4 separate regions of the Homo sapiens genome follow, and regions 1, 2 and 4 are each linked to region 3. The links come from fine-mapping of genetic effects on gene expression. A gene starts in region 3. Each other region holds a variant in brackets. All regions are shown on one strand. Distances are between the middles of the regions.

What was found. PIP is the estimated chance that this variant, and not a neighbour inherited with it, causes the effect.
Region 1: its variant is the best candidate, but not a certain one, in a credible set for the expression of ERCC6 in spleen (GTEx, PIP 0.66).
Region 2: its variant is the best candidate, but not a certain one, in a credible set for the expression of ERCC6 in T cells (TOPMed, PIP 0.76).
Region 4: its variant is the best candidate, but not a certain one, in a credible set for the expression of ERCC6 in sigmoid colon (GTEx, PIP 0.53).

What each region holds. Positions count from the first base shown.
Region 1 is chr10:49,461,652-49,469,912 of GRCh38, reverse strand. The region is part of intron 18 of ERCC6 (ERCC excision repair 6, chromatin remodeling factor); the gene reads left to right. Among named protein-coding and RNA genes, the nearest start is that of PGBD3, 58 kb to the left of the region's middle. The variant G/A (reference allele first, on the strand shown) is at 4,581.
Region 2 is chr10:49,556,775-49,565,035 of GRCh38, reverse strand. No RefSeq gene overlaps it. Among named protein-coding and RNA genes, the nearest start is that of ERCC6, 22 kb to the right of the region's middle. The variant A/C (reference allele first, on the strand shown) is at 4,486.
Region 3 is chr10:49,534,070-49,542,330 of GRCh38, reverse strand. ERCC6 (ERCC excision repair 6, chromatin remodeling factor) reads left to right here and starts at 3,210. Exons shown (of 21, transcript NM_000124.4): 1 at 3,210-3,369. RefSeq lists enhancers at 2,528-2,767, 2,798-2,857, 6,100-6,159, 6,190-6,239, 7,398-7,557 and silencers at 3,278-3,567, 4,513-4,701.
Region 4 is chr10:49,450,300-49,458,560 of GRCh38, reverse strand. ERCC6 (ERCC excision repair 6, chromatin remodeling factor) reads left to right here. Exons shown (of 21, transcript NM_000124.4): 21 at 1-4,091. Among named protein-coding and RNA genes, the nearest start is that of DRGX, 58 kb to the right of the region's middle. The variant T/AT (reference allele first, on the strand shown) is at 4,425.

The sequences.
Region 1 (8,261 bases), 72 kb after region 3:
ACCTGAACATTAGTAGGCAGTTACTTTACATGCTATATGCTACATTAATCTGATTTTCCAACCACAGGAGATTAAAGTAACATCATAAGGGAGAGGGACAAGCGTGTGGCTAGAGACAGACATTCTAGAAGTATGAAAGCTGATAGCTTATGTCAAGGGAGAAAAGTTAGGAGATGTAGACTCAACAATTGCTCAAGACCATGGAGTATATAGATAGCCCTGCTTAGTGATCCCTTAGCAGTCACTGTGTTCACAATGTGATGGCCTTGAGTTACCAAAGATTGCTGCTTATGGTACTCAGTTTAAGAAGGCAGGTTTATGTGTAGCATTTCAGAAAGACTTTTATTTAGCATGGTTAATTTTTTTGTTAATTTCATATTTTGAAGTAATTTCAAACTTAAATCAGTTGGGTCTCAAAAAAAAATCAGTTGGAATAATACGAAGAACTCTCCTATATCCTTTATCTAAGTTATTAACATTTTTCAGCTTTTGCTTTATCATTCACACACACACCCATCTATGCATACATTTTTTTTTTGGTAGGAATGCCACAGAGGTGATACCGTATCTTACTCAGTGCATCTATCAGGAGACACATGCTGGTTTGACCTATTACAAGTTGATTTTTAAGATCACTTGGTTAAGGTGGAGTCTGCCAGGTTTCTCAATGCTAAGGTTAATATTTTTACCTTTGTAATTAATTTGTGCTTTCAAGGAATATGCTTTGAGACTGTGTAAATATCCTGTTTCTCATCAAACTTTTATCCACTAGTTTTAATATCTATTGATGATTCTTTCCTCAGTCAGTTATTACTACAATGGTTGCCAAATGGTGATTAACATTCTATTGTAAGGAAGGTTTTCCTTCTCTCTTATTTATTTATTAATTTATTTTTAGATCAGTGTGGACTAATGGATTCTTTTTTTTTCCATGACTGTAATCCATTAGTAGGGGTATTATGATGCTCGTATTGTCTTAGATTTGCCTCATGGGTGGGAGCTCCTTCAAGCTGGCTCCTTTGTCCCTCTGGTATGTCCCCACCATTCTTTGAGCACCTCCTTTCTTCTTGGCATACTAATATATGCTGAGCTCAATTTGTATTCTGTGCCAGCCCTGGAATCAGCCATTTCTTCAAGGAACCCTGGAGAATGGTATTTAGGAACTAGGATCCGGGTTCTCAGAGTGTTCATTGCTGCTATTATGTCATTGCTTTCGTAGCCAATAGTATCAGGAAATAGATGTATGTATGTGTGTGTATGTGTTTGTTGTGTACATACATATACACATACATACGTGCATATATATGCACAACAAATTGCACAGATACACCTGTCTCTATGTCTGTGAAAACCATGAATTTGGCTTCCAGCAAAGGCAGATTAACATTTACCCTTCCATGTGAAACAATGAAAACAATGACAAAACATATGAAGCAATGGTTTTCAGACACCAAAGGGCAGTGATCTCTTGAGAGATGGGAAACAAATGAACTGAGCTCTCCAGTTGCCCTGCCCTACTGCCTTGAGAGAATTTTCGTGCTGTAACAGAAAGAGGGAGAACCCAGATGGGAGTCCAGGCAGACCCTCTGTTGAAAAGGCAGAGCTGAGCATCAGGGGAGGCCAGGGTGGCTGGCATTCACATGCAAGAGACGATAGCGGAGACAGCTCTGCACAGGGAGAGAACCCCACAGGTCTGCAGAGTCTCCACTGGCACTCAGCTGAATACTGACCAGCACATTGTGCAAGAAAACTACTTAAGGTCAGTGAAAAGGCCTTTCCTCTTTAACTTTTCGAATTAGAGGAAACATGTCTGGTGCTCACCCATGGCCAGGGATAGTGCCTGTTCCCACCAGCTAAGACTGGAAAAATATTTCATGGGGCATTGGGTATGATACAGAGTAGGGGGTCTTGCCTCTGTAGTAGGGAATGATCAGCCTTAGAGTGAGCACTGCTTCAGCCCTACCTGAGTGTTTACAGGAATATACAAATACCCAACATCCAACAAGATGAAATTCACAATGTCTGGAACCCAATAAAAAATTACTGGCTGGGTGTGGTGGCTCAGCCTGTAATCCCAGTGCTTTGAGAGGCTGAGGTGGGTTGATTGCTTGAGCCTAGGAGTTCAAAACCAGCCTGGGCAACATAGTGAGATCCTATCTCTACAAAAAATAAAAAAAAAAATAGCCGGGTGTGGTAGCATACACCTGTGGTCCCAGCTACTTGCGAGGCTGAGCTGGGAGGATTGCTCGAGCCTGGGAGGTTGAGGCTGTGGTGAGCTGTGATCATGCCACTGCACTCCAGCCTGGGCAGCAGAGCGAGACCCCATGTCAAAAAATAATAAAATGTATAACCCAATTTTTTAAATGGACAAATAATTTGAACAGACTTCACCAAGAAAGATATGTAGATGGCAAATAAATATATGAAACTTGTTAATATTATTAGTTATTAGGGAAATGCCAATTAGAACCATAACGAGATACCACTATACACCCTCTAGAATGGCTAAAATGAAAGAAGACTGACCATACTAAGTGTTGGTAAAGATGTGAAGCAGTTGGGTCTCATACACGCCTGGTGGGAATGTAAAATGGCACAATCACTTTGGAAAACAGTTTGGCAGTTGCATGCGCTTTCCTTGTGATATAGCTTTTTCAGTCCTGGGTGTGTATTTGCCCAAGAGAAATGGAAAAATATGTCCATACGAAGGCTTGTACATGAATATTCGTAGCAGCTTTATTAGTAATAGCCAAAAATGTAGAAATCAAATGTCTACCAACAAGTAAATAGTTAAACTAACCATGGCATATCCATATGATCAAATACTAGTCGACAGGTGGGGCTTGGCTCACGCCTGTAATCCCAGCACTTTGGGAGGCCGAGGTGGGTGAATCACCTGAGGTCAGGAGTTCGAGACCAACCTGGACAACATGGTGAAACTCCATCTCTACAAAAATACAAAAATTAGGCATGATGGTGGGTGTCTGGAATCCCAGCTACTTGGGAAGCTGAGCGGGAGAATCGCTTGAACCTGGGAAGTGGAGGTTGCAGTGAGCCGAGATCACACCATTGTACTCCTGCCTGTGCGACAGAGCAAGACTCCGTCTCAAAAAATATATATACTAATCAACAATAAAAGGAAGTAGAGTATTGATACATGCTACAGCATGGATGACTTTCGGACTAGTAAGATTAGTACATACTCTGATGCCGTTTGCATAAAATTCTAGAAAACACACAGTCATGACAGAAATTGGATTGGTTGTCTGGGCATGGGGTATTTGACGGTGGGATTACAAAGGGACATGAGTTTTGCAGGTGACGGCTATGTTCATTGTCTTGATTGTAGTGATAGTTTCATGGTATGTACATAATGTCACAACTTACCAAATACTGTACTTTAGCAGTTATTGCATATCAGTTACACTCTAATAAGCTCCAAAAAGCAAAATAAGATGAGGGAATACTGTTGTCTCCAATTTCATTTCAGCACCCTAGGGCCCTTTCCATGTTTGTAGCTTCCTTCTTCAAGACCTTCATTCACAACGTACTGAGTTACTTGTCAATCCTAGGATACATGGTAGCTTTTTACAATTTCTGACCTGAACTATGGCAAGAAACAGTTATACTAACTAGAATTCAATATTTGTTTTTATTTATACTAACTAAAGTTCAATATTTGTTTTTATTTCTTTTTGTCTTTAGTCTAAGTTTTTGGTCAAAACACTACTTGAGTCAAAAATAACTTAGTTCTTTTTTCTCACCCTTCATCATATTTTCAGTGTGTGCTATCAGTTTAAAATACAGTTAGGTTAATTTATTTGTTTGTATTCCACTTTAGGGTTTCCTCCCATCCTTGTTGACTCTATGTTATCTTCTGAGTAGTAACACATTAACATAGTAACAAAAGACAAAATATGCAAAAAGGAATACCAGAGTAGTGTCATCCCCCACCCTGTCCCCACCCCTTCCTTACCTTACCAGTCTCATGAGTTTCTGGCATTTCCTTCATGTGTTTCTGTGTTAGTCTGTTTTCACACTGCTGATAAAGACATACCAGAGACTGGGCAATTTACAAAAGAAAGAGGTTTAATTGACTTACAATTCCACATGACTGGGGAGGCTTTACAATCATGCAAGGAGGAGCAAGTAACATCTTTCATGGATAGCAGCAGGCAAAGAGCTTGTGCAGAGAAATTCCCATTTTTAAAACCATCAGATCTCATATAAGACTCATTCACTAGTACAAGAACAGCACAGGAAAGACCCAACCCCATAATTCAGTCACCTCCCACCAGATTCCTCCCATGACATGTGGGAATTGTGGGAGTTACAATTCAAGATGAGATTTGGCTGGGACATAGCCAAACCATATCTTTCCACCTCTGGCCCCTCCCATATCTCATATCTTCACATTTTAAAACCAATCATGCCTTCCCAACAGTCCCCTAAAGTCTCAACTCATTTCAGCATTAACTCAAAAGTCCACAGTCCAGAGTCTCATCCAAGACCAGGCAAGTCTCTTCTGCCTATGAGCCTGTAAAATCAAAAGCAAGTTAGTTACTTCCTAGATACAATAG[G/A]GTTACAGGCATTGGGTAAGTACAGCCATTCCAAATGGGAGAAATTGACCAAAACAAAGGGGCTATAGGCCCCACACAAGTCTGAAGTCCAGCAGGGCAGTCAAATCTTAAAGCTCCAAAATGATCTCCTTTGACTCCTTGTCTCGCATCCAGGTCACGCTGATGCAAGAGGTGGGTTCCTATGGTCTTGGGCAGCTCTGCCCCTTTGGCTTTGCAGGGTATAGCCCCCCTCCTGGCTGCTTTCATGGGTGGCATTGAGTGTCTGCAGCCTTTCCAGGTGCATGGTGCAAGCTGTCAGTGGATCTACTGTTCTGGGGTCTGGAGGACCGTGGCCCTCTTCTCATAGCTCCACTAGGTGGTGCCCCAGTAGGGACTCTGTGTGGGGACTCCAACCCAACATTTTCCTTCTGCACTGCCCTAGGAGAGATTCTCCATGAGAACCCTGCCCCTGCAGCAAACTTCTGCCTGGGCATCTAGGAGTTTCCATACATCTTTTGAAATCTAGGCAGAAGTTCCCAAACCTCAGTTATTGACTTCTGTGCACCCTCAGGCTCAACACTGTGTGGAAGCTCCCAAGGCTTGGGGCTTGCACCATCTGAAGCCACAGCCTGAGCTCTTTGTTGGCCCCTTTCAGCCACAGCTGGAGTGGCTGGGACACAGTACACCAAGTCCCCAGGCTGCACACAGCATGGGGACCATGGGCCAGGCCCGTGAAACCACTTTTTCCCCCTGGGCCTCTGGGCCTGTGATGGGAGGGGTTGCCATGAAGGTCTCTGATATGCCCTGCAGACATTTTCCTCATTGTCTTGGGGATTAACATTTGGCTCCTCGTTACGTAATGCAAATTTCTGCAGCCAGCTTGAATTTCTCTTGAGAAAATGGGGTTTTCTTTCCTATCACATTGTAAGGCTGCAAATTGTCCAAACTTTTATGCACTGCTTCCCTTATAAAACTGAATGCCTTTAACAACACCCATGTCACCTGTTGAATGCTTTGCTGCTTAGAAATTTCTTCCGCCAGATACCCTAAATCATCTCTCTCAAGTTCAAAGTTCCACAGATCTCTAGGGCAGGGGCAAAATGCCGCCTGTCTCTTTGCTAAAACATAACAAGAGTCACCTTTGCTCCAATTCCCAACAAGTTCCTCATCTCCGTCTGAGACCACCTCAGTTTGGACCTTACTGTTCATATCACTATCAACATTTTTGTCAAAGCTATTCAAGAAGTCTCTAGGAAGTTGCAAACCTTCCCACATTTTCCTCTCGTCTTCTGAGCCCTCCAAACTGTTCCCATCTCTACCTGTTACCCAGTTCCAAAGTTGCTTCCACATTTTGGGATATCTTTTCAGGAGCGCACCTCCCCACTGGTACCAGTTGCCTTTATTAGTGCATTTTTATGCTGCTGATAAAGACATTACCCAAGACTGGGCAATTTACAAAAGAAAGAGGTTTAATCAACTTACAGTTCTGTGTGGCTGTGGAGGCCTCACAGTCATGTCAGAAGGCAAGGAGGAGCAAGTCACATCTTACATGGACGGCAGCAGGCAAAGAGAGCTTATGCAGGAAAACTCCCATTTTTAAAACCATGAGATCTCATGAAACTCATTCACTCATGAGAACAGTGTAGGAAAGACGCATCTTCATAATTAATCACCTCCCACTGGGTTCCTCCCATGTCACGTGGGAATTGTGGGAGTTACAATTCAAGATGAGATTTGGGTGGGGACACAGCTGAACTATATGTTTCTTTTGTAGAAATAAGCAGGCACATGTATAATTTTATATTCCCTTATTCTCTTACACAAAAGGTTGTATACTATATTATCTTCTGTTCCTTTTTTTAAAAAAACTTCATATATCCTGACAGCCACTGCAGTATTAATTAACAGAGAGCTATTCCTCCTTTAGCAATTTTTATTGCTAGAGTGCTCTGCTATGTTGACCCAAAACCTGAAATCTAAAATGCTCTAAAATCCAAAACTTTTTGTGCACTGACATGATGCCAGATGTGGAAAATTCCACACCTGACTTCATGTGATGGGTCACAGTCAAAACACAATTAACACTTTGTTTCCTGCACAAAATTGATAAACGTATTATATTAAAATTACCTTCAGGCTATGTGTGTAAGGTGTATGTTAAAAATATATACATTTTGTGTTTAGACTTGGGGCCCATCCCCAAGATGTCTCATTAGGTATATGCAATTATTCCAAAATCTGAAAAAGGCAAAATCTGAAGCACTTCTGGTCCCAAGAATTTTGGGTAAGAGATATTCAACCTGTACCACAGTTTATCCACATATGAGGATTTAGATTTTTTATAGCTTCTTTTAGCCACAGTGCTGCACTAAATAATCCTGTGCTTATACAAGAGGAATTGCTAGATCAAAAGGTAAACACATATGTAAGTTTGTTTTGTTTGTTTGTTTGAATAATGCCCAACTCCCTTTTGTAAGGTTTAGATCAATTTGAATTGTCACGAGCAGTTGTTGCCCAGAGGCTTGTCAAGAGTGTGGTGTTACACTTTTAATTTTTCCCAATCTGATAGGTGAGAAAGGATATCTTAAGTTTTAATTTCCAGTTATTTTCTTTGAGTGAAATTGAACTTTTTATAGGACCATTTATATTTAAAAAATTTTTCTTTCTGTGAACTTGTCTGTTCATGTCTTTTGTCCATTTTCTAAATCAGGTTTTTGGTCCCTTTTTCCCCTTGGTTTTAAAGAGTTCTTTATATATTAGGGATGTTAGCTTTTCATTTTTCATATATGTTACAAGTATTTCCTCATTGGTTGTCCTTTATTATGATTTTTTTCCTATGAAACAGGTTTTTTTTTAAAAAAATTGTCAGTCTTTTATTAATTGGAATTGTAGTTCTAAGCCTTTTCTACATATAGATCATATGATAATTCGCCATGTTTTCTTGTACTACTTGTATGGTTTTGCTTTTTACATTCAGATTTCTGATCCATTTGGAGTATGAGGTGTGGATTTTATCTTGGTTCAAAGATAAAATGCCCCAACGTTTGTGCCCCAACGTTTGTAGCATCATTTATTTCAAATAAGTTTTTCTCAGTGATTAGAGATGCCTTTATCATGTAGTACATTTCCAAATGCAGTTCAATCTATTTCTATTTTCTGGTCAATCTCCTGTTGTGTCTCTTCTTTCCTCAGCACCAAACTGTTGTAATTGGAGCGTGTTTTATTGTCCAATAGGGTGTTACTTTGCCTTTTCAGTGTTTTCTGATCTGTTCATGAAGGTTTATTGTTCTGTATGAACTTTAGTGTCAGTTTGTCTAGCTTCATAAGAAAGGTTGACATTTTTATTGAGATTACATTAAACATATAAATTAACTCAGGGAAAATGGTTATTGAGTCATTCTACTCAAATGCAAGGGATGTCTTTCTGTTTGTTTAAGTCTGATAGTCTATCTTCCCAGGAGTGTTTTCATGTCTTCTCCATATAGGCTTTACACATTGCTTGGGTTTATTCCTAAGTGTTTGGTCTTTTCTGTTACTGTAAATAGAATTTTCCCACCATTATATTTTTAGCTGGCTATTGTTTGTAAATAGGAAGGTTATAGGTTTCTGTGTGTGAATTTTATATTTTTTATGTTGCTTGAATTATCTTACTATTTTTTATCATTGATTCTCTAGGGTTTTCTAAGTGTACTATCACTTTGT
Region 2 (8,261 bases), 23 kb before region 3:
CATCACGCTCATCCTCTGATATATTAATAATTTTTTATGTTGAATTTTTTCCTGATAAAATTACTGTCTGGTTTTGTTCTTCTGACTGGATTCTCACTGGTACAGAATGGATATCAGGAGTTATCCCAGGAGAAAGGCCACACAGGCAGAAATTTGCATTGGTTTGGTCAGGCCCTTGGGCTTAAGTGCAGTTCTGAGCTCCTTGCCAATGGGCAGTGGAATGCTAGAAACCCATGGCATGTGGCGGTGCCACACTGAATCAAGCTGTCACCTATGGCTGATTGTGATGAAGAACGAGCAGAAGCAAGACTCTTGGGAACCCCAGTGCCACTGCACTGCACTGCGATGGCAGTAATGATGACTATGAGGACTGCAATGTGAGGCAGATTTTCTTCTTAAGCACACTTGGGTACTTACAAAGAGAAAATGGGAAGCACAGTTCTGTTTACTCTCAGCTTGAGTCACAGTCTGAAAACTGGAGAGCCCTAAAAAAATCTCTTATTTTTGGTAGCTGGACTGATAATGCTGAAAATAAAACACCAACTTAATTTTTTGCCGAATTGCACTGGAAATTTAGAACATTGATTGGTAAAGAATGGGATTCTGAAACTTTGAATGGGAGCTTCTGGTTGAACCCAGAAGAAACTGACAATCTTAGACCTCCAAGTCGCTCTGATATTCCTTTACCCATGGAAGGAGCCTGCCCTCCGGTGTCTGAGAATAATAGCCTTCCTTTTCTTTGAGAATCTTGTGATAAGCTCACCTGAGGCAGATGCTTTGAAAGGGGATGCCCTTTCTCCTCAAGACCCAATCAAACCATATGCACATAGACCCATAACTAGTGTCAAATCTCAGCATGCTCCAGAGAACAGGTAGACACAGTGACCCAAAAAGAAGTAGCTTACACACAGAAAGAATAAGGTTTTGTTAATGTATATTGTCAGAAGCCTAGGATGCATGTGTGGAAGTGCATTCTAAGGGCGTTACACCAAGGAGGGTGGAATCTAACACTAGATCAGCCCTGATTGTGAATATGGGTGCTCTTATTGGACATTCTGGATTTAGTGTGTTTGCTCATGCAGCTGAAGGTGATTCTAATGGCTTACCTGGTTGGTTGACTAAAACTTGGACAAAATAGTGGCCAATATGATTCGATAAATGGACTCCAAAGGCTATGGAGATAGGAGTGTTGGGCTGGATTTATCATTTGCAAATGTGTATCTACCCCCAACCTATGTTCCAGCAGGAGGCCCAGAAGACACTCCCTTGACTAAGGCATTGAGAAATGCATTAGTGAGCAAAGCATCTGCACCCTTGGTCAGCTCTGCAGTGGATTTCTTCTGCAGGGCAGATATGACTGTAGGGGATGTTGCATTGAGATGGGCTCTGGTTTCAATAAGGTTGAAATCCCAGAGGATCATAGGCCAAGAGGCAGCACCTAACTGCCAGAGGCACATTCACTGTAAAGGGCAGCAGGGCTATGCAGGCAGTCAGAATGCCTTGACCCACAGAGATATTTGGCAGTGGTCAATTGATATGGCATTCCCAGGAATCAAATAGATGGACAGCTCACTACATTGTTTGATCTGTATAACAGGAAAAACTCTAGGTCTGGTAGCTAAAAGTCTGGCTTGAGTCACAGCTTCTCACCCCATTTCTAGATCTAAGGCAATTTATGTACTTAGCGTGTCCCTTGAATAAAGAAGCCCCTTGAGGAGGGACCCTGCATCACTATTGCAAATTTCCACTGTAAATCTTACTTTAAGTCTTCTCCAAAGCGACCTGTAGCTGTTTATTAGAGTGACTGCATTTGGGAGAAGAGAACTCCCAGACTTTTCCAAGATTATGACATTGGCTCTGAGTTGACACTGATTATTGAGGAGCCAAAATACCACAGTGGCTCACCAGTCAGAGTGGGGGTTTATGGTGTCAGGGGATGGAATCTTAGCCCAGGTCTGACTCACAGTGGGCCCTGTGGTCTACAGACCAAGTCTGCAGTTATTTCCTCAGTTCATTTTTTGTTTTGTTTTGTTTTTGAGACAGGGTCTTGCTCTGTTATTCAGACTGGAGGGTAGTGGTGGGATTGATCACAGCTCACTGCAGCCTTGACCTCCCTGGGCTCAAGTGATCCTCCCACCTCAGCCTCCTGAGTGGCTGGGACTACAGGCATGTGCCACCCTGCCCAGCTAAAGTTTTGTATTTTTTGTAGAGATGGGGTTTCACCATGTTGCCCAGGCTGGTCTCAAACTCCTGGGCTGAGGCAGTCTCGGCCTCCCAAAATGCCTGGATTATAGGCACGAGCCACTACATGAAGCCCTCAGTTCTTGAATGTATAACGGTGATAGACACACTTGGCAACTATGTGGCCTCTCTGATCTATGAGATGAAGATAATTATGATTGGAATGCCTAAGAACTAACTAACTTCTAGTAAACCAGAAGCCATATTATATCCTTGGGAGAATTGCAGAGATTGATGTCACTATAAAAGACTTAAGAAGAGTAGGGGTAATGATAGTTGTCACATCCCTATCTAATACATCAGTGAGGCCTGTGTAGAAGTCAGAAGAATCTGGAGAATGACTGTGGATTGCTGTAAACTTAAATGGTGACTCCAATTTCAGCTGCTGTCCCAAATGTATAGCTTTACTAGAAAAAGTGTTCCTAGTACTTGGTATGCAGCTGTCGACCTAGCTGATACCCTTTTCTCAACACTTATTTATGAGGACCACCAGCAAATCAGTTTGCTTTTCACCTGTCAGGCTCAGCTATGCTCCTTCACACTCTTGCCTCAGAGCTAGTCAATTCTGCTGCTGTCTGCCACATTACAGTTCACAGAGGTCTGGATAATCTTGACATCTGATGAAACATCACAGTAGCCCACTGCATTGATAACATTGTGCTGATGAGATCTGAGGAGCAGGAAGTAGCAAGTTCTTTTGATGCCTTAGTAACATATATGCAAATTAGAGGGGGGAGATAAAACCATTTGGGGTACCAATTCAGTATCAGTCAAGGCTCACTCAGGAGAGAGAAACCACACAATAATTAGAATGCAGGGAGTTTAATATAAATAATTATTAACTATAACAGAGGAATGGAGAGATCGGGCAGTAAAAACTAAAGAGAATGCTAAAGAACACAGTGGTAGCAGATACAAGGAACAGCCTGTACTTCTGGGGCTGACATAGAACGCTCGAGATAATAGTTCCTTAAAGCTGGGAGATCGTGTGTGATTGCAGGGGGACCTTCTTTCTGAGGACCTGGCCTCTCTTTCAGTCAATGGGTTTCAGGTCCCAAAAGTGTCTCAGGGCCAAAAACTGGGCAAAAGTTTATGTTAGAGCTTGACATTTGTGTCTTCTACCCGCAAAGCCATATGTTGAAGCCCTAACCCAAATGTGATGGTATTCGGAAACGGGATCTTTGGAAGGTAATTAGCATTAGATGGGGTCATGAGGGTGGAGCTGTCATGATGAGATTAGTGCCCTTATAATAAGAAATACCATAGAGCTTCTTACTTTCTCCCCGACTCATGCAAAAAGAGTTCATGTGAACACATAGTGAGAGGTGGCAGCCTGCAAGCCAAGAGAAGAGAAGTCAGAATAAAACCCACCTTGCTAGCACCATGATCTTGGACTTCCAAGCCTTCAGAACTGTGAGAAATACATTTCTGTTGTTTAATCTACCTGGTCTACAGTACTCCATCATGGCAGACCACACTATGACTAAGACAAATTTTGACTTTTATTGAGGTGGCTTTCCTCAGCCTTCTGCCCATCATCCTAACTTTCTTTTGATTGTATAGATTGAGCAATGCCTTCACTGACTTCCCTCCTCTCTTGTTCTTAGGAATTCAATATTCTATTGCCTCATGTCCATACCTTTCTGCAAGTCAGTTCACCTGTCCACACTATCAGCTTCTGTTGGTATATGGTGGCTAGGTCTTAAATTTCCTTTTCTTTCTTGGTCAACTCAGTACTCATAGCCAGGATATATGTTGTGCTTTCACACTAGTTCTTGGTCTGGTGATTAGGAGAGAGGGTAGGGGGAGATCCTGAGGAGGTCTATATTATGTAGCAAGGCAGATGCCTCCCCCTATTTTTAAGCAAAGGAGAATTCTAGCCTTTAATAAAGAGGAGTGGGCCACTTCTGAAGACCCAGAGAGTTCAGGGGGCAAAGTTCTTAAATGCATCGACCCAGATGTCCCTGTCCCTCACAGTCTCACTCCTTCCCATCTCAGGCTTTGGTCTTGGAACTGCAGACTTGCTGGGGGTGAGAATTCAACTTCCTTAGAATTCTACTACTTTTAGAGTGAGTCAACTCCCAGGCCTGATCTCAGCTTTTTTTCTGCAAGAGATGAGAATCTCTTTATGTTGCCAAGAAGGCTCTCTGACTTTCACACTATGCCTTTAATTGATAATCAATCACTCTGAAGTCTTTCTTCGATGTATCAATGGCACTCAGTAAGGGTCAACCAGTTTGGCTT[A/C]ATAATTACTTTATGGTGCCTGAATCATTGTGCCTGCATTATCCCTTCACTGCTGTTCATGGCCCATTTCATGCTGTTCAAGTTTATGGCATGTGTGTTAATAGTTGCCCTGCTTCTTCATGCTCGGGACTCTTGACTCCACCTGTCCCAGTTATGGGATCCTCAGTGTCAACCAGTGGGCGATACAACCTTGAAATCCCATTTTAGAGTCTACTTTCTTGAACTACTCCTGGCCTCATTTGTTTTAGGTCATGTTCCCTGGGAAACAGACTCTCAGGCAGAGGAAGTTCATTGGGAAGTGCTTTTGGTAACAGTACAGTGTGGAAGGGAGGGAAGCTGGACCAGGCAGAGGGAGAAAGTTCCACTGGAATGCAGTTACAAGAAAGGCAGAGGCGGGGGCTGGGAAATCCTGCAGGTCATCTTGTGCGAAAAGAAAATAAAAGTGTCGGGACCCCAGACTCACTATGTCAAAGGGAAAAGTTAGGCTTGGGAACTGAGTCACGCAAAACTGCCTCCCATTTCCTAAATGGATAGCTGCAAAGATAGAAGCCACACACATCCCCAGGGGCCTCCTCAAAATTCGCTTACAAGGAAATTCCTGTGGGCCGAAGATCTTTACCCTAAAACCGACTTCTGTTGAATTTCACTCTGACAATTTAATCAACAGCCTATCTTCACAGGTACAGGACAGACAGGACTTGTGTTTGTCCCTCTGCCCACCTGAGACAAAGGCATATATGACTGCATTTTTTACTCTATATTTCCTTTATTTTATGTAAAAAATGCAGATTCACTGAGCACAAGACCAGTGCATAGTTGACTGTTCCTCTACCCCCTCTTTTCACATGTGCAATGTGGATTCTGTGAACGCTGACCAAAGCCTGGCAAGAATGCAACCATTTGGCTCTTTTATCTACCCTCCCCTTTTTCTCTTTCCTCTGTCTGCTCATTGCTCTTTCAATACTGAAGCCTCCAAACCCTCTTTGGAAAAAACATGGATCACAGATATTCCTGTGATTTTTGTTCCAATTCCCAGGCACATCCTCAACCTTGGTAAAATAAACTTCTGAATTGATTGAGACTGACTTCAGTCATTTTCTTTGATTTACATGAGGAATCCTCCCTACCATGCTACCTCTGTGTTCAGGTCAGGCCTGGACCCCTACCTTCATGGCCACCCAGCCCAGACATAACAGCAGGTGGGAGAGTCAGGAAACCCTGGTAAGGAACACTCTTGGGCTTCCTTGAGAGGGTGCGGGGGCACAGAATGGGGGATAGGAGCAGGCAGCCAGCTGGGTGGAGGATTTAGACTGGGCCCATGTGCCCAGACTGACAAGCTGCTCCAGGGGCCCTGACATGGCTTCTCGATATCTCCTAGGACTTGAATGAGAAGTGAGGGGTTGATGGGGACTGGGAACAGGAGCAGCAGTGGAAGAATACATTATCCAAAATCCTCTCAGCAGTTTTCCCGGCCATGTGTTGACATGAGCAGGGATCCTCTCAAACTCATCTGCCCAGTGCACCCATTTCTGTAACAAATATCTCTTAATACCTCCTAAACACACACATACACACACACACACACACACACACACACACACACACACACAAAGAGTTTTTCCAAAGTCAGTATAATGCCCTCACTGAATAAAAGGAAAGTAATTTATAATAAAAGAATATTGGCCAGGCGTGGTGGCTCACGCCTGTAATCCCAGTGCTTTGGGAGGCTGAGGCAGGTGGATCACGAGGTCAGGGGTTCGAGACCAGCCTGACCAACGTGGTGAAACCCCATCTCTACTAAAAATACAAAAATCAGCTGGGCAGGGTGGCAGGCACCCGTAATCCCAGCTACTTGGGAGGCTGAGGCAGGAGAATTGCTTGAACCCTGGAGGCGGAGGTTGCAGTGGGCCGAGATTGCGCCACTGCACTCCAGCCTGGGTGACAGAGTGAGACTCTGTCTCAAAAAAAAAAAAAAAAAAGAATATTCATTTCAACATGTAAATATTCGGGCAGGCCTGGCCTTGAAGACAAAGTGAATAGTAAGATGTTTGTACCTGTGTGTAGAGTCAACACGAGTGCGGCCATGTCTGCTATAACACATTGCATCAGTCTCGGATGCAGACTGTCACAGTGTGCTATACCAGAGACGTGAACACTAGGAGGGGTGTTTCCATCAGGGATGTGGTTTTAAAAGTGCTGCCAGTCCCAGCTTACCTCACTCCACACAGTAGTTGCATTTCTAGAAAAATGCCTTGCATAGAAAACTGTGCAAAAAGGACTTTATGTTACATGGAGTTCAGGTCTAGGCCTAAATAATCATAAAAACATTTCTCTCCTGCATGAATGTCTGGGAAAGCATTTGAAAGTCCTGTGGGATGTAAGACAACTCTTTCTGCATCTTACACATGGAGAATGTTAGAATTCCTTATCCCGTCCACTAAATGTCTATGGTGCTGCCCCATCCGTGTGTCCACTGTTCCCCTTCACAAAGACCATGACATTAAGAGGTGCCCAGAGAATGGGCATCCTGTGTGTGGCCCTGTCATCACTTTTGTTGGAAGGCCTAGAAAACAGAAACAGTTCCTGCAGAATTTATTAACAAGATACACCCAAATGGAGATTCCACCAACTTGCAAATTGCTATGGGTGGAGGAGCTCTCTACGGCCTCCTTTCTGCTGCCCTCACACTTCTGCTAAAGCACATCACTTGCTGGTGACACATTCATTATTTACTCATTTCAGGCTCAAGAGCAAAGCAGCCAGGCTGGTCTCCACTCACTCATTCATTTTAATTAAACTCTCTAATTTTATTTATGCTGCGACAAACTGATTAACAATTTGCCAGCAGAGAGTAGGAAATCTTAAAAAGCACCTTGAAGAATCTGTGGGTCTCAAAACACAAACCTCACAGAAATGAGGTGGGCTGTGGGTGGGGGCTCCTGCAGGCTGGAGGAAGCAAGTTGTTGAAGCTTCACCACTTCCTACAACCTTGGAACAGCTTCTGGCTCTGAGATCTGGGGCCACCAAGCTGATGGATGGAGAGGCTATCTCTTTGTCTGACATCCCTGAAGCTGTGGGAGAGGGGTTGGGGCTGGCATGGTATCCTGTGTCCCCGGAGGATGGAGATTGTGGGTGGGGGCAGCAGAGATCTCAATCCCCAATCAGTGGGAGAAATGGACATTGATCCAGCCAATTACAAAACACTTTGGTTAAGTGTTGAGGTAGAGTTGAGCCTTGGGTGTTGGAAAAGCTTAGAAAAGGGCTGGAATTTCAGTTAAATCATGGAGGACTCCTAGAATATTACCAGACTGACTAGCTGGAGAGGACATGAGCAAAGACTCAGACATTCATTCCTCCATTCTCCAAAGGCCAGGCGTGCCACTAGTTCCAAATATTAGGGAGAGAAAAAGGAATGAGAGACTGTAACAGACTGAATTGGGGAATTTTAATCCAGTAATGTGCAAATGTGATTTCCTCCCCCCATGCCCCTACAATAACCACTACTATCAGTTTTGCCTTTTCAGATTATTTTTCTGATCCTGAAAGTGGAACAGAAAGAAAACTTGATCTCTTGCCCAATAAGTTTGGCTAGTATTCTGATTCACAGTTAAAACCTTTACCCCCTTTCAGGCAAATACTTAGTTTACTTGGATGTGATGATCCTCTGCCCTGGTCTTCAGCAGTGAGCTGCTGGCAGAGGAGATCATGTGGCTTGCTCTCCCCGCAAGCCTCTCTCTCCTCCCTCTCCTCTGTTCCCTGCCCTAGCCATACAGAAT
Region 3 (8,261 bases):
TTTATAAGGGGCTTTCCCCCTCCTTCACTCTGCACTTCTCCTTGCTGCCACCATGTGAAGTAGGACATGTTTGCTCCCCCTGTCACCATGATTGTAAGTTTCCAGAGGCCTCCCCAGCCATGCTTAACTGTGAGTCAATTAAACCTCTTTCCTTTATAAATTACCCAGTCTTGGGTATGTCTTTATTAGCAGCACGAGAGCAGACTAATACAACCACTATTTGTAGCTTTTTGAGATATCTTTCCAGGTTTTTTGCATGTCTGACACCCATGGCTCCACCTGGACCGCCAACCCCACTCCCACAGCCCCACCCAGAAGTGATTCAGACTGCAGGAGGACAGCTTTGACTCCCCCTATGATTTCATCTCAGCCTCAACCAATCAGCAGCAAGCACCTGTTACCTGGCCACTCCCACCCCTTCCTCCAAACTGCGTTTGAAAAACCCCCAGCCTATGAGCTTCGGACTTTGGATCAGATGACCTGAGCATGCACTCCATCTCCCACCTGGCATGGTCGGCCTCGTGTCTATTAAGCTCTTTTTCTACCACAATGCTATGGTCTTTCTTTATGCAGTGGGCAGGAAGAACCCCTTGGGTGGGGTGTTTAAAATAATGCCCAGCTTAGAGTAAGGGCTAGGAAATGGTAGGGAAAATGGATTAAAATCCAAATCAATAACTACTATAATAATGACATTAGAAATATTGGTTTGGGGGTACACAGGAGATGCAAGAGCCTATTGCTGTCAGAGGGTAGGGGAAAGCTTCAGAAAAGAGAAACTTTGTCTGAGTTTGGAATGGGTAAGAGAATTCTAAGCAGAGGGACCTGCTTGTAAGATCACAGAAGTGACAGAATAACAAGTAGGGGTATGTGGGAAAAGATTAATAATTGCCTCTCCCCCAAAGTTCCAGTTTATAGTTTGTCCATTTCTGTGGTATAAATACTCCTACTATGGCTGATTTCAAGCTATTAATGTGAAGTCAACAAAGGCAGAGTTGGTGCTATGGGCTAAACTGGGTGCCCCCCAAATTCATATGCTGAATCCCTAACCCTCAATGTGACTATTTGGAGACAGGGTCTTTAGGCAGCAAATCTGGTTAAATGAGATCATAAGGGTGAGTCCCTAATCCAATACGGCTGATGCCTTAGAAGAAAGGGAAGACAGAGCCCTCTCTCTACCCCATGTAAGGACACAGTGAGAAGGTAACCATTTGCAAGCCATGAGGAGAGCTTCCCCTAAATGAGCTAAATCTGCCTGCATTTGATCTTGGACTTCCCAGCCTCCAGAACTATGAGAAACAAATGCCTGTTGTTTAAGCTGCCCAGTCTATGGCATTTGTTATGGCAGCCTGAGCTAAGGCAGCTGGGAAGAGGTGAACAGTATGCTTGCTAGGCCGTAGAAGCCAATTGTAGCACACCCTTCCTGGGAGAAGAGTAAGTAGTTCCCTAAATCCTGAGCATAGGCATCCAGGGAGTGAAGGACACAAGTGATGCAGAAAAATTAGATGGGGCAGGAGTATAAAAGGGCTTGGACGACTTGCTAAATAACTTGGGACCTCATTTAACTAAATTCCCTCATTAAAGACCCTATCTTCAAATACAGTCACATTCTGAGGTCCCGGGGTGGGGGTGGGGAGTGGCGGTTAGGACTCCAGCATATGAATTTTGGGGAGGGGACACAATTCGGCCCTTAATAGCTCCAGTTGTGCCACCCTGAGTTGTTTTCCTGAACCCCGCCCACGTCTTTGTAAATAATAACTCTCAACTTCCCCTTTTGAGTGGACCATTTTTTCCTGTCCAAATTCTGATATAGGAAGGGTCTCCAAAATAGCTGCAAAGGGAACCTCAGTCTCAAAAGTTGGGATCCACTATATATCTGCTTTTACTTTCAAGCATTGAAACTAATGTCAATCAACTGCCTTTCTATTCTTAATATTTTATCCAAGAAATCGCTAGAATTCTTTCTCCTTTAAAAAAAAAAAAAAGCAAGTTACAAGCCGGGCGTGGTGGCTCACACCTGTAATCCCAGAACTCTAGGAGGCCGAGGCGGGTGGATCACCTGAGGTCAGGAGTTCGCGGACAGCTTGGCTAACATGACGAAACCCCGTCTCTACTAAAAACACAAAAATTAGCTGGGCATGGTGGCAGGCGCCTGTAATCCCAGCTACCCGGCAGGCTGAGGCAGGAGAATCGCTTGAACCTGGGAGGAGGAGGTTGCAGTGAGCCCACATCGTGCCATTGTACTCCATCCTGGGCGACAAGAGCAAAACTCCGTCTCAAAAACAAAAACAAAAACAAAACAAACAAAAAAACCCACTACCACCAACAAAAACAAGTTACATTGTGGGTTGGGGCCGCTGACAGGAGGAATAAGATGATGTTATGGAGCATTTCCTAGTCCCCTTTCCGACCCCATTTCCCTATTGTCCGACTTCAGGCTTCCAAGTGAGGACAGCACTTCCCAGGCAGTGACCCGCAGTCACTGCCCTCCCAGAGGACGTCCTGCCTCGCGGCCCTGGAAAGTCCACCTTCTCCTAGCACCGATCCTGAGCTGAGAAGCTCTGTCTGGTACAGCCATCCTGCATCGTGGGCTGCTTCTTTCCCCAGGCGAAGCTCAACTTCCTCCCATTGTTCTGAACCTCTGTGTGGACATCTTCTTTCTTCAAACGCACCACGGTAAAATTCTCGCCTGCCTCGAAACCCCGCCTACCTCTGAGATCTGAGGACGGATACTAAACGCTGGACTTAAGGCAATGTACACATGTAAGCAGGCTCTGTAGGCACTCACTCCGCCCAGGTGCGCGCGTGGCGGAGGGGGAACAGAGAAGCAGGACAGCTCTCCATCCTTCCCGTGTTCAGTCGTGGGAGACAACAAGAGAGGTCACAGCCTGGCGACCAAAAAGTGCGGCTAACTTCCCTGCCCAAGCTGACTTTCTCTGCAGGGTTCAAGGTTAATTGTGAGGATTTACATTCGCATGGCACACCCGCATCCCCCTCTACGTGGAAATATGTCTTAACTTTCATAACTGCCTTGCCAGCAGGGTATTTTTCGCTAGGGGCGAAGCGTCCTTCGCAAGCCACCCAGCTGACCGGCAGCGGAGACAGCTTTCTCGCCCTGCTCGCACGCAAGTAGAAAGGCGCTGCTGAGCCCGTCCCTCCAAACCACGTGGTCTTGCCCGTGCTTAAAAACAAACGCTGAGCCAGGCGCATGCGCCACGGGCCTCCCCGCACCAGCAGAAGTCGGAGTCGCTGTTGGGGGCGGTGTCTATGGTTGAGCTGAGGGCGCAGGCGCCACGGCCCGTCGAGCTGGGTTCCAAGGCGGCTGGCGGCGGTAGCGTCTCTGTTTCCTTGTGGGCGCTCGCGCGGCCCTGGGTGAGTGTTCGGGGGTCCCGGCCGAATGTCGGGCAGGGGGTGTCGGGGCCCAGCTCAGGCTTCTCGGGCGGGCCGCGGCCCCGCGCCTTGGCCTCGCCGTGGTGATTGAGCCTGTCAGCGAGGACGCACTGTAGCGGGTCTTAGGGCCAAGTGCCCGCTTCCGGCGGCCTCACCTGAGACCGGAAGTAGCGCCAAGGAGCGCTCACCTGAGGCGGCTTGAGTCCCTGGCCGGCCAGCGACCCAGCTACTTCTCCGACTTTGTATAAGGCCCCCTGCGCGCAGGGTCAGCTGGGTCCTTTTTGATCTCGATTAAAATGCTGGAGCTGTTATTTTAAAGAGAGTCGGGCTAGATGTACGTCCGACGTTTTGGGCGTTGATAGAGTCAAATTGATAAGAGTGTGGGCGGATGAGGCAGGCCGCCTGTAAATGCTGCTGTTACGTGACTTCCACGCAGCGTCTTAACTGCTGTCATCCTGTGACAGGCAGCCCTCGCTTTTCTCCTCAACTTTTCCCATCATCTTCTTGTTGCTTTGTCTCCTCCAATCCATTATCCGCACAGTTGTCCAGGTGGTCTCTGGCATAAAGTAGGTCATGCCATCATCAGCCTACTTAACAGTTTTCAGAGTCATTCCATTGCACTGGGAGTGGAATCCATGCTCGTGTTTTCCCAGGCCTTGTGTGATTTGGCCCTTGCCTGTCCCCTCTCAGAACTGTGCCTGTGTCCGACCAACCCTCCAAATGAGACCCAGCTTGCCCCTGGCTGCGGGAGCCCCAGTGATGGGGGAGGACGGTGAAGATACTAGTGTCCCAGATGATTAAGCCTTAGAAGATACTCTGCAAGACTTAGGCCATGAACGGAGCCCTTCTCTGCTCTTCTTAACTCAAAGTTAAAAATAAAGTCAAAAATTCGGTGTTCCAGCCTTCTTGCATTTTCACAAGTGCATCAGCTCTTTCTAGTCTTAAAAGTTACGCACGTTGTTGGGAGGCCGAGGTGGGTGGATCACCCGAGGTCAGGAGTTCGAGACCAGCCTTACCAACGTGGTGAAACCCTGTCTTTACTAAATACGAAAAATTAGCCGGGCATGATGGCATATGCCTGTAATCCCAGCTAATCGGGAGGCCAAGGCAGGAGAATCGCTTGAACCCGGAAGGCGGAGGTTGCAGTGAGCCTGGCGGAGCCTGGCGGAGGTTGCACTCCAGCCTGGGCAACCGGAGCGAAATTCCGTCTCAAAAAAAAAAAAAATTTCACACGTTGTTTCCTTGCAAGACGTTCACTTTACTTTCGACCTGACTGACTTATCAGATGTCACTTTATCAGAGAGGCCTCCTTGACCCCACATCTACCTCCACAATTTCAATTTGGTTTCTCTCATTTTGTCAGAAAGCCTTGTACTTTCCTCTTAACAGCAGTCACCACAATTATATTTGTGTGTGTGTGTGTGTGTGTGTGTGTATGTGTATATATATATATATAGTTTTTAAATGTCTGTTTTTCCCATGAGACTCTAAGCTCTTTGGGGACAGGAATTAGTTAACCTAGTACATTGCCTGGTGTAATTAACTCTCAGTAACTATTTGTTAAATGTATGATTTCTTTCTTTCTTTTTTTTTTTTTTTTTGAGACGGAGTCTTGCCCTGTCGCCCAGGCTGGAGTGCAGTGGTGCGATCTCGCTCACTGCGGCCTCCGCCTCCTGGGTTCAAGCGATTCTCCTGCCCCAGCCTCTCGAGTAGCTGGGATTACAGGCGCGCGCCTCCATGCCCAGCTAATTTTTGCATTTTTAGTAGAGACGGGGTTTCACTATGTTGGTCAGGCTGGTCTCGAACTTCTGACCTCGTGATCCTCCCGCCTCGGCCTCCCAAAGTGCTGGGATTACAGGCATGAGCCACCGCTCCCGGCAAATGTATGATTTATTTCACTTCTGAAATTCTTTAACCTGATAAGAGCCTTCTGGTTTCCAACTCTCACTTCCAGAAGACTTGGTTTTCTGGCCATTGCCAGATACTAAGTGACTTCTTGAACCCTTTCTCCCATTTCCAGGCCCCTTCTGTTTTTTTGTTTGTTTGTTTTTGTTTTTTTAAACCTACCCAGCTTGGACCCTGAAGTCAGTTGCTTCAGCTACTCTTCTCAGCATCTTCAACCCCGTGACTCTTTTGCGCTACCATTTCTGCTCTGAAAACCCTCAATAGTGACATTTCCCCCAGGACTACTGAAGGAGGAGATTGTTCAGCCCTGGAGATTGTTAGCAGTCTATGGCTTTGCAGGGCTGGGGAGATCCTCAGGTAGGTCCTCCACAGCAATCATCAGTGTTTGTTCCCTGTCAACTCCCTTTTCTCTTGTACAGGACATTTATTCCAGACTCTTAGTCTTTAGCCCCAGTGCCAACTTTGTCTCCTGACTCAGGAACTGCCCAACTTGCTGCTTTGTGGGATATTTTGTCTGTAATCCACTTCAGCTTCCCTCCTTTCCACCTGCAAATTTAGATCTATCAGGAATCCTCCTTCTGCCAGAGTCCGAGAAAGATGTGTTGTGCCTCCTGTTCATTTCTGCTTGCGACCTTCCACTTTTGCTGTCTCTTTTGGTACACCTTTCTGGGTTATCTCCTCTGTCTCCCTCCAGCCATTACGTGCTCTAGTTTTTCTTGCCCTAGTTCTCTCCCTACCCCCAACAAATCCATTATTACTTTATCACTGTAGCTGTCTCCCTGCCAGAGGCAAGCTCTTTAAAGGACAGGCCACTCTCTTGTGGCCTCCATTTCCTCATCCACTCCTTACACACCAACTACATTTCAACCACTACAGTCTGGTTTTTGGCCCTATCGCTCCACTGAAACTTTTTTATTTTTTCGAGACAGAGTTTCACTCTTGTTGCCCAGGCTGGAGTTCTGCGGTGTGATCTCAGCTCACTGCAACCTCTGCCTCCTGGGTTCAAGCGATTCTCGTGCCTCAGCCTCCCGAGTAGCTGGGATTACAGGCATGCACCACCACGCCTGGCTAATTTTTGTATTTTAGTAGAGATGGGGTTTCACCATGTTGGGTCAGGCTGGTCACGAACTCAGGTGATCCACCCGCCTTGGCCTCCCAAAGTGCTGGGATTACAGGTGTGAGCCACCAAGCCTGGCCTGAAACTTCTTTTACCAAGGTAAATGGTGACCCATTGGTATCCAAATTCACTCAGCCTTTTCTCATTCACTGGACGCTCTTCCTCCTTTTTTATTATTAGAAGTTTTCCCCAAACTTCTTTATTTTTAACCTTGTCTTTACACTACAATACTATTGCTTTTTGATATTATTTTACAGAAATAGAAAAATGGTTACTTAATATTTTTGGTTGAATTGGCATCCTTTTTTCTTAAAAAGAAATCCTCATGTGTGTACAAATAAGAAAAATGAAAACAGAATTGTTAACTGCCAGCTAGTACAGACACTCTGAGCTGGAATCCTGCTCTCTCTGTTGGAAAGTGAGGTGAGCTGAGCCTTCCTCTTGAAAATAATCAGCAGGCCCCAAAAGAAGGAACTTTCTCACTGTGTTGTTCACTTTTTAACCTTTCCAATGTTAGCCTCCTCGTACCCTCCAAAATGACCTTAGGTACCTGTCAGAGCCTTGGGAACCCTGGAACTGCTCACTCTGCTGATGTGTCCACATGTCACCCAGACTTTCCCTTGAGCTCAGATTTGCATTTCTGACTGCATGCTGCAAATGGTACTGATTACATGTAAGCTGCTTGCCAGTCCTGCTTCCTATCTGCTTCCTTTTTGAGAGTCTCATTTTTGTGACTGAATTCACTGGTGACTCATTTGTCCAGACCAAACTTTTTATTATTTTAGACTTAGCTCTGAACCTCACTTCCTTTCAGCAGATATTGAGCACCTCCTATATATCAGACCATGCATGGCCCATGTGTTCAAATCTCAGTTCCTCCGTGATATTTCTTGGGCCCCAGACACCATATATAGTTCGCTCGATGCTCGTGTGACCTCTTGTCCGTGTCCCGGGCTAGCTGACCTGCCCTGCTCTGTTGTTAACTGACATGCTGCTGCTCCAGTGGATAGCCACTCGGGTGTAGATGATGCTGAATTCTTTGTATCCCGGTGCTTTATTGCTGGGCTTATTTTACTTAATAAGGGATGAGTGGGGCCCACTGGGGGAACTTGTCATTTAACAGAAAAGTTACAGTGCTCAAAGAAATCTTATTCACAGTTAAACAAAAAGCAAGACTGATTTTTGGTTATCGTTTTGCTTTTTAATATATTTATTAGATGTGATAGTTGTATAGGTAATATAGTGAATATATTCTCCTTAAAGCAGCAGGTCCTGAGTATGTGGAGTACAATGTGAACATTCCCCCTTATTTTTCCCTGTGCTTTCTCTTCCCCATCCTGATTTGCAGGCTTAGTTTGTATCCTGCCAGATCATTCTGTGTGCAGGATAGATACTTTTTTCAGCATAAGTGTGTTCATACCATGAATTTTTTCACTTAACATGGCTTTTATATCAGTATACAGAATATACTTAGTAGTTACATTAAACTATTAAAAATGTGCTGCACTAAACATTCTTGCACCTGTGTGTGACTAGTTCTCTGGAATAAATACCTAGAATTGCTTGACAAAGGTCATGTGCCTTTAATTTAATAGATATTGCTAAGTTGTCCCTACAAGGGGCTTTACTAATTTATATTCTCAGCAGCACTATGTGAGGGGGGATCCTTCTCCTTGTCTGTATTGGATTTATCTATCAGGCTTTGAATTCTTGCTAACCTGATGGGTGAGAAATTATACTGTGTATTAAAATGGAGTTTTTTTTTTGTTTTTTTTTTTTTTTTTTTTTGAGATTGAGTCTCACTCTGTTGCCTATGCTGGAATGCAGTGGTGAGATCTCATCTCACTGCAAC
Region 4 (8,261 bases), 84 kb after region 3:
TCAGGTACCTAACAGTTACTCCTTGGAGCACATTTGTTCCTTTACCCAAAAGATGCTGTCAGGGAGCACAGTTAGAAGTTTGCAGAACAGAAATCTCAATATTTTTTTTTATTGGTGCTAAAAACAGGTCTTACATTCAGTCAGACCTGTTCAATAAGTTCATCAATATCTGATAACAGCATTATTTTGATGCTTAAACTTTAAACATTTATATTTACCATTTGCCACCCACAAAGGTCAGGTTTGTTATTTGTTGTTTGATAATTATATTAATTTTCTTGGAAAGATCCTCTTTTCAAGGTACTGGTAAATTGGTGAGTATTTTTATTAGTAAAGCATGAAATAGTATGGTAATAAATGATAAGACATGTATTTGTGGAAAGCTGTAGGGTATTCAGTTTACCCTGGCTTTCCTTTAAGCAGAGGGCATCTTTTTCTCTCCTACAGTCACAAAATGTGTTATCATTAAAAAAAATCAAATTAAAGCCAAAAGTAGGTACATAAAAACCACACACATGCATGCACACAAACATCACTGCAGCCCACAGCAGACCCAGCCGTTGTTACCATGAAGTGACACCACTCCAGGCCTCTCTTGTCTGCAGGCTGGCAGGCTGTCTTCTCTCCAGTTGCCTTCGTCTTGCGCCTGCCTTTGCATTCCTTGCGACGGGCTTTCTTGTTTCTGCGGTTTGGATTCCAGCCAAGGCTGTTTGTATCTCACTACTGTTTATGTGTTTGTGGTTCTGTGATGGTGTTGCTTTGATCCTCAGTTTATTTTCTTACCCATGTTTTTCTTGTTTCCTTCTCAGGATGATTTTATCATCTCATCTTTGAAGTGTTGTTTTCCGAAATTCATCGTATTCCTGAAATTTCTTCTTAGCTGTCTTAGTGCAGTTTGTTTCTTGGATTTGTATTCTCTGGCATGCTCTTTTCCTCTCTCTCATTTTTCTGTAGTATGCCTGCCCTCCTACCCTGCTATTTCTTTACATCTCTCTCATGCTTAACATGGATAGCTGTGTCCAGATCTTCTGTCTGCTCATCCATGTGACTCAGAGAGGAGGGTTCTGGGCAGGGGGGCCTTGCCGGACTGCATGAGAGGACATGAGTTTTGCTTTCTCTGCTCTAATATTTTGCTTAAGCCAAGAATCCTTTTCTTAGAGATGTTCTATATGATTCCTGTCAGGATTTTCTAGTTTTTTTTGGATTATAGCTTGTTCATTTCTTTTGTTTTTAGTTTGGTTTATATATAATGAGGGAAGAAGATGATTACATTATTTTTGTCACTTTGCCATCATTGTTTAGAAGTCATAGAAAGAATTTTTAAATAGGCCAATAAGTCTTAAACTTGAGTACTTGGCTTAGAAGAAAGTCAAAACTCCTTCCTTTTTGACTAAGTGGTTTGTTTCTGGGGAGCTCTTAATTTCTATTTTTATAATCATTAGCCTATAAGGAAATTGTGTCTTCCTTGTTCTCAGGGTGATCTGCTGACCTTGTTCACTCATGAAGCATTTGGGTATCATACTTATAGTGTCTGAAACATAAACTGTATTGAGCTAGACAAGGTATAGCCTCCTCTTCAAGTAGCAAATACTATCAAAAGCTATAATGCAGTAGGAGCAAGGTGGTCCTTGTTCCAGTTTTTGTCTCAGTTCTGCTGCTGATGTACCATGATCTTGGGAAGGTGGTGTCTCAGTGTGGAGATCTGACACATTGTTACCGTGCCTCCTGGCTGGAGGGACTTGGAGAACAATGCAGTTAAGTAGAATGGTTTTAACAATACAGAGAAATTTATTCATTTAGATAAAAATCTGATTTTTAGAACTTTAAAAGCTTTGTACAGTGTAAATAGATTTAATGTATTTAACATGCTTTATCAGCACAAATAAAGGATTTTAAAATTTTGTCAAAAAATTAAATGTTAATACTATCACCATTAAAAATGTTCAAGCAATAGTCTGCCTCCCCACCCCCACACCATCTTGCACCTGTTCCACAGCTAAGTACAGCCCTAGGTTTGGTGTGTATTCTCCATGCATTTAGAGAATCACATGACACAGACTGCTGCTATAATGTCATTTTCCCATTCTTCCTTTACTAATAAAATTTTTGAGTTTTACCTGGACGTCTGGCTGCTCAGCTTAAGACTACTTCTCAGCCTCTCTTATAGTTAATTGTGGCCATATGACTAAGTTTTAAACTTCCCAATTGGCCCTTTAAAGAAGCAGGGTATGCACTCTCCTTGACATTCCCCTTTCTTGCTGGCTGGGAGGCCAATGGGAGCTTCAGTAGTGACCTGGCATCTCAAGAGATGGAAGTGATGTGTTGAGGAAGGAGAAGTTGGCCTGCCAGTCTTGAACTGCTCTCCTTTGACCTGTTATTTAAGAGTAAAATAAAATACTGACTTGCTTAAGCTACTGTCTTTTGAAGTCTATTATAGCAATTAGTTTGCTTTAAATATGTAATTTATATTAATGGCCTTATACCATCCTTATTTTGCAACTAACTTTTCATTTAATATTATATGCAAGACATTTCTATTCCTGTAAGTATAGCTCTGCCTGCACAGAATTGTTGGATTAATGATGTAGATTTTAAATGTCAGTGGATGTAGCAGAATTGCTTGCATCAATTCACCCTCCATAAAAGGACCCATTTCTCCAAACCCTTGCCAACAGTAAGTGGTATCAATATCGATAGGTTGTTTTGTTTTGTTTTAACCAGTCTCGTGATTGAAAGTACCTTGTTTTCACTTGAATTTCCCTGATTACGTACAAAATCAAACATTTCCATGTTTATTGGCCATTTGTAGATCTCTACCGTACATTGCCTATTAGTGTTATGTTGGCCTAGTTTTCCTGTGGGTTGTTTATCTTTTAGGATTGCTCCCCTAAACAAAAACAAAAAGGCAGTTATTCCAATGATCAACAAATATTCTTTTCTCCACCAGTTTAAAATGTCAGCTTTCAACTCATCACATGCTAAGTTGTCTATTTCTGTCCTGTGGATCCAGGTGTTGGTTCTACCAACCACACTCCTCACGCTGTCATTTGGTGCTTTGCATTGTGTTTTGCCATTCATGGGCAAGTTCCTTTTCCTTTCTCCCCCTCTTCAGTGTCTTATACTTGGGTGTTTTCTGTTCCAGCTGAATCAAGAATTAGTTTATTAAATTCCAGTAAAATTGTGGTGTTCTTTTGACTAGGATTGCATTTGTTTACACATTAATTTGAGAATAATAGACCTCTTTATAATTAATATAATGTTTCTGATTAGTGTTATGATAGGCCTCATTTTATTAAAGTCTTTTATATTCTTGGATGAAATTTTAATAACTTTCTTCATAAATGTCTTGCACATTTCATAATAGGCTTATTCCTAGGTGTTTTATAGATTTTTAGTTTTGGTTGTGAGTCTTTTAACTTACATAAAAATATGGAGAATTAGCATATTCACATATCTATTTTGTGATGTTTATCATACGGAAGTTTTAAAATATAGTAAATTCAGTCTTTCCATTTTTTTTTGTTTATTTAAGAACCATTCCCTAGCTAGGGTCATGAATACATTCTTATGAATTATTAATCCCATATGGATAGCTAGTTTCCCTAGCACCTTTAAAAAATAGTTTATTATTTTCCTCCTGATGTATAAGGCCACCTTTACCAATTTACATATAATGTACGGAAATGTTTCTTGGCTCTGCATTCTGTTAAATTGGTCCATTTATCTAACTTTGCTTAGTAACCCACTGTTTTTATCATTGTGGTATCATAATTGATTATCACAAATGGTAGAATGATTGTCCTCAAAGTCTTTTCTGGTATATATTGATATAATTGTATAGCTTTTCTTGGTGTAGTAAAGTACACAGTTAAATTTTCTAACATTGAAATATCTTTTAGATTTTCACTTCCAGAATGGCAATGTGAAGGGCCCTGTGGACCCACTGTCCTAGGAATTAGCTATAACTAGTGAAAATTGTAACAAAAAATAAACACCTTCCTCTCATACAGAGAGACACAAACACTTAATGCCACTGGAAATTGTCCTAAAAGCATGTAGAATAAAGTAACGCTTATTCAAGAAAATCCAAATCTTGGTAAGAACAGTGAGTCAGACATTTCAGCCACAACACACTCACTCCCTCCCTCCCATTTCAGTGGGTGCAGCCAAGAAAACAGAGCTCCGTCTCCCTCAGCTCCCTGTCCAGAGGTATGGTACCTCACAGGGAGGGGCAAGATGCCAGCATTTCTTATCCCCTCCAGCTTCAAGTGGCAAGAGCTAAATTCATGAAGTTAAAAACTATAATAAGGAAAAAATGCACTAAAGGGGTTCAATAGTAGATTTGAACTGGCAGAAGAAATTGTCAGCCAACTGGCAGATAGAATAAGAGAGATATGCTTTCCAAAGAACAGAGAGAAAAAAAA[T/AT]GAAAAATGAGCAAAACCTCAGAGAAATGTGAAGCACCATTATGTGCACCATTAAGTATGCATGTAATGGGAGTACAAGAAGAGCAGAAGAAAAAGGAAATATTTAAAGATACAATGACTGAAAACTCTCCAAATTGATTGAAAAACATCTAGGAAGCTTAGTGAACTTCCAGCATGATAAATGCAGAGGGATTCACAGACACATCATAGTCAAAAATGCTGAAATCAAAGATGAGAAAACCTTGAAAGTAGTGAGTGAAAAAAAGATACATCACTTAGAGAACAAAATTAATACTTGACTTCTCAAAAGAAATAATGGAGGCCAGAAGGCAGGTATAACAGTCAAAGTGCTTGAAGAAAAAAAAACTGTCAACCAAGAATCCTATATCCAGCAAATGTATTATTCAAAAATATAAGTGAAATACTTTCCCAGATAAACAAAAACAGAAAAATTGTTGTTAACCAACCTGCCTAATAAGAAGTATTAAATGAAGTTCTTTAGGCTGAAAGCAAGAGAAGAGCACCAGTAAAAGCAATTATATAATTATAAAAGTCACATAAATGCATATTTTTCTCCTCTTAACTGATTAAAATGCAACTGTATCAAATAATACGTATATGATGTATTGGTCTATAACATACAGAAATGTCATATATGTAACATTTGTCAAAACAGCACAAAGGAGGTGGCTGGGAGCAAAGCTGTAGTAGACTAATTAAATGATGGCAGATGGTAAAGTAATAATTATAACAATGTGTTGGATTTGTAACATTAATAGATACCATATGTATACCTAAAATATCACAAAAAGGGGGAAAGGGAATATAGCTATATAAGAGTAAAGCTTCTATATATTATTGGAGTTAAGCTTGTGTAATTCTAACAGATTCTGATAAGATGTATATGGTAAACACTAGAGCAACCACTAATAAAATAACTCCAGAAATATAGTTGAAAAATCATTAATCAAATTAAAATACTACCTTAGAAAATACTCGATGCAAAAGGCAATATTAAAAGAGAATGAAAAGAACACAATGGATACTAGAAAACAAAAAGTAATGTGTATTCAACTTATCAATAATAAATGTTAATGAATTTAATCAGGCAGAGACTATCAGATTGGATTAAAAATACATTCCAACTCTATGTTATCTATGCTCCCATAGATAACACACTTTAGGCTCAAAGACACAGATAGATTAAAAGGATACAAAAAGAAATAGTGCAAACAATTGCCATAAGAAAGCTGGACTGGCTATACTAGTGTCAGACAAAGTAGACTTTAAGACAAAAATGCTCCTAGAGATAGAGACATTTTATAATGATAAAAAGGTTAACCCATCAAAAAGATATAACAGTTGTAAACATATGTATGAACTTAACAGTATCAAAACACAGAAAGCAAAAACTGACAGAAATGGAAGAAGAAAATGGTCACAATAATAATTGGAGACTCCATAACCTATTTTCAGTAATGGACAAAACTAGACACAAGGTTAACAATGAAATAGAAAACTTGACCAACGCTGTAAACCAACTAGCCCTAACAGACATCTATAGAACACTTCACCCAAGCGCTACAGCATATACATTATCAAATGCTCATAGAACATTCTTCAGGATAGGCCTTATGCTAGACCATGAAACTTCAATACGTTTAAAAGGATAGAAATAATGCAAAGTGCATTTTGTGAACATAATCACAGGATTAAATTAGAAATAAAAAATGGGAACATTTGAAGAACTCACAATTAGGAAATTGAACAACACACTACTAAATGACCAATAGACCAAAGAAGAAAACAAGAAGGTAATCAGCACTTTGAGGCTAATGAAAATTAAGACACAAGTAAACTGTACGGATGCAGCTAAAAAAGTGCTTAGAGGAAATTTATAGGTGTAAATGCCTGTATTAAGGAAGAAATAAAGCAATAACCTTTCTTCCACCTTAAGTCACTGAAGAAAGAAGAACAAACTAAACCTAAAGCAAGCAGAAGGAAGGAAATAATAAAATTAGAGTAGAAATTAATGAAAGAATAGAAAAACAATAGAGAAAATATTACTAGAAACTGGTAATTTGAAAAGATCAATAAATATGACAAATATTTCACTAGGTTGACCAATAAAAAGGCAATACTCAAATTACTAGGATCTGATATGAAAGAGTAGACACTACTACCAACCTTACAGAAATGGGCAATCTGAATAGACCTATAACTAGTGAACAGATTAAACCAGGAATCAGAAAATTGCCCACAAAGAATAGTCCAGGCACAGACAGTTTTACCACTGTGTTCTACCAAACAATCAAATAAATTATAGCAATTATTCTCAAACTCTTTCAAGAAATAGGAGGGAGTACTTCCCAGTATTGCCCTGATAACAAAACTGCTCAAAGATATTACAAGAAAACTGCAGACCAATATGTCTTATGAAATACCTGCAAAAATCCTCAACTAAATGCTGCAAACCAAATCCAGCAACATATAAAAATAATTATGCACCATCACCAAGTAGGATTTATCCCAGGGATATAAGATTGGCTTAACATGTGAAAATCAATGTAATACATTATATCAATATAATAAAAAAGTCATCTCTACTGATGCAAAAATAGCTGCATTTGAATAAATCCAACACCCTTTCATCATAAAAATGTTTGAAAAACGAGGAACGGAAGGAAACTACCTTAACCTGATAAAGAACATCTATGAAAAATCTACAGCTTTCTTTATACTTAATGGTGAAAAACTGAATGCTTTCCCACTGAGATTAGAAATAAGACAAGGATGCCCATTATCACACTTCTATTTAACATTGTACTGGAGGGTCTAAGCCATTGCAATTATGCAAGAAGAAAATAAAGGTTGGAAAGGAAGAAGAAAGACTGTTCACAAATGACATGATCTTGTATGTAGAAGATTCTAGGGAATCCACCAAAAAAAAAAAAAAAAACTATTGAAACTAATAAGTGAGTTCAGCAAGATGGGAGGATACAACATCAGTATTTAAAAATCAGTTGGGCCGGGCATGGTGGCTCACGCCTGTAATCCCAGCACTTTGGGAGGCCGAGGCAGGTGGATCATGAGGTCAGGAGATCAAGACCATCCTGGCTAACACGGTGAAACCCTGTCTCCACTAAAAATACAAAAAATTAGCCAGGCGTGGTGGCGGGTGCCTGTAGTCCCAGCTACTTGGGAGGCTGAGGCAGGAGAATGGCATGAACCTGGGAGGCGGAGCTTGCAGTGAGCCAAGATTGTGCCACCGCACTCCAGCCTGGGTGACAAAGCGAGACTCCATCTCAAAAAAAAAAAAATCGTATTTCTACACACTTGCAATGAATAATCAAAAATGAAATTAAGAATATTCATAATAGCATCAAAAAGAATAAGGTGCTTAATAACATATTTAACAAAAAGTGCAAAACTTACACTCTGAAAACTACAAAACATTGCAGAAAGTAATTAAAGAAGACCTAAATAAATGGAAAAACATGCCATGTTCATGGATCAGAAGAGTTAATGCTGTTAAGATGACAATATTCCTCAAACTTGTCTGCAGATTCAGCATAATCCCTGTCAGAATCTCTGCTGACATCTTTGCAGAAATTGACAAGCTGATGCTAAGAGTTATATGAAATTTCAAGGGACCCAGAATAGCCAAAGAAATCCTGAAAAAGAATAAAGTAGAAAAACCCACATTTCTTCATTTTGAATTACAAAACAATAGTAATTAAGAAGTGTGTTACTGGCACAAGGGTAGACATAGATCATTGTATTTTTTTAAAAAATGGTGATTCCAGAAATAAATGCAAACATCTGTAGTCAACTGAT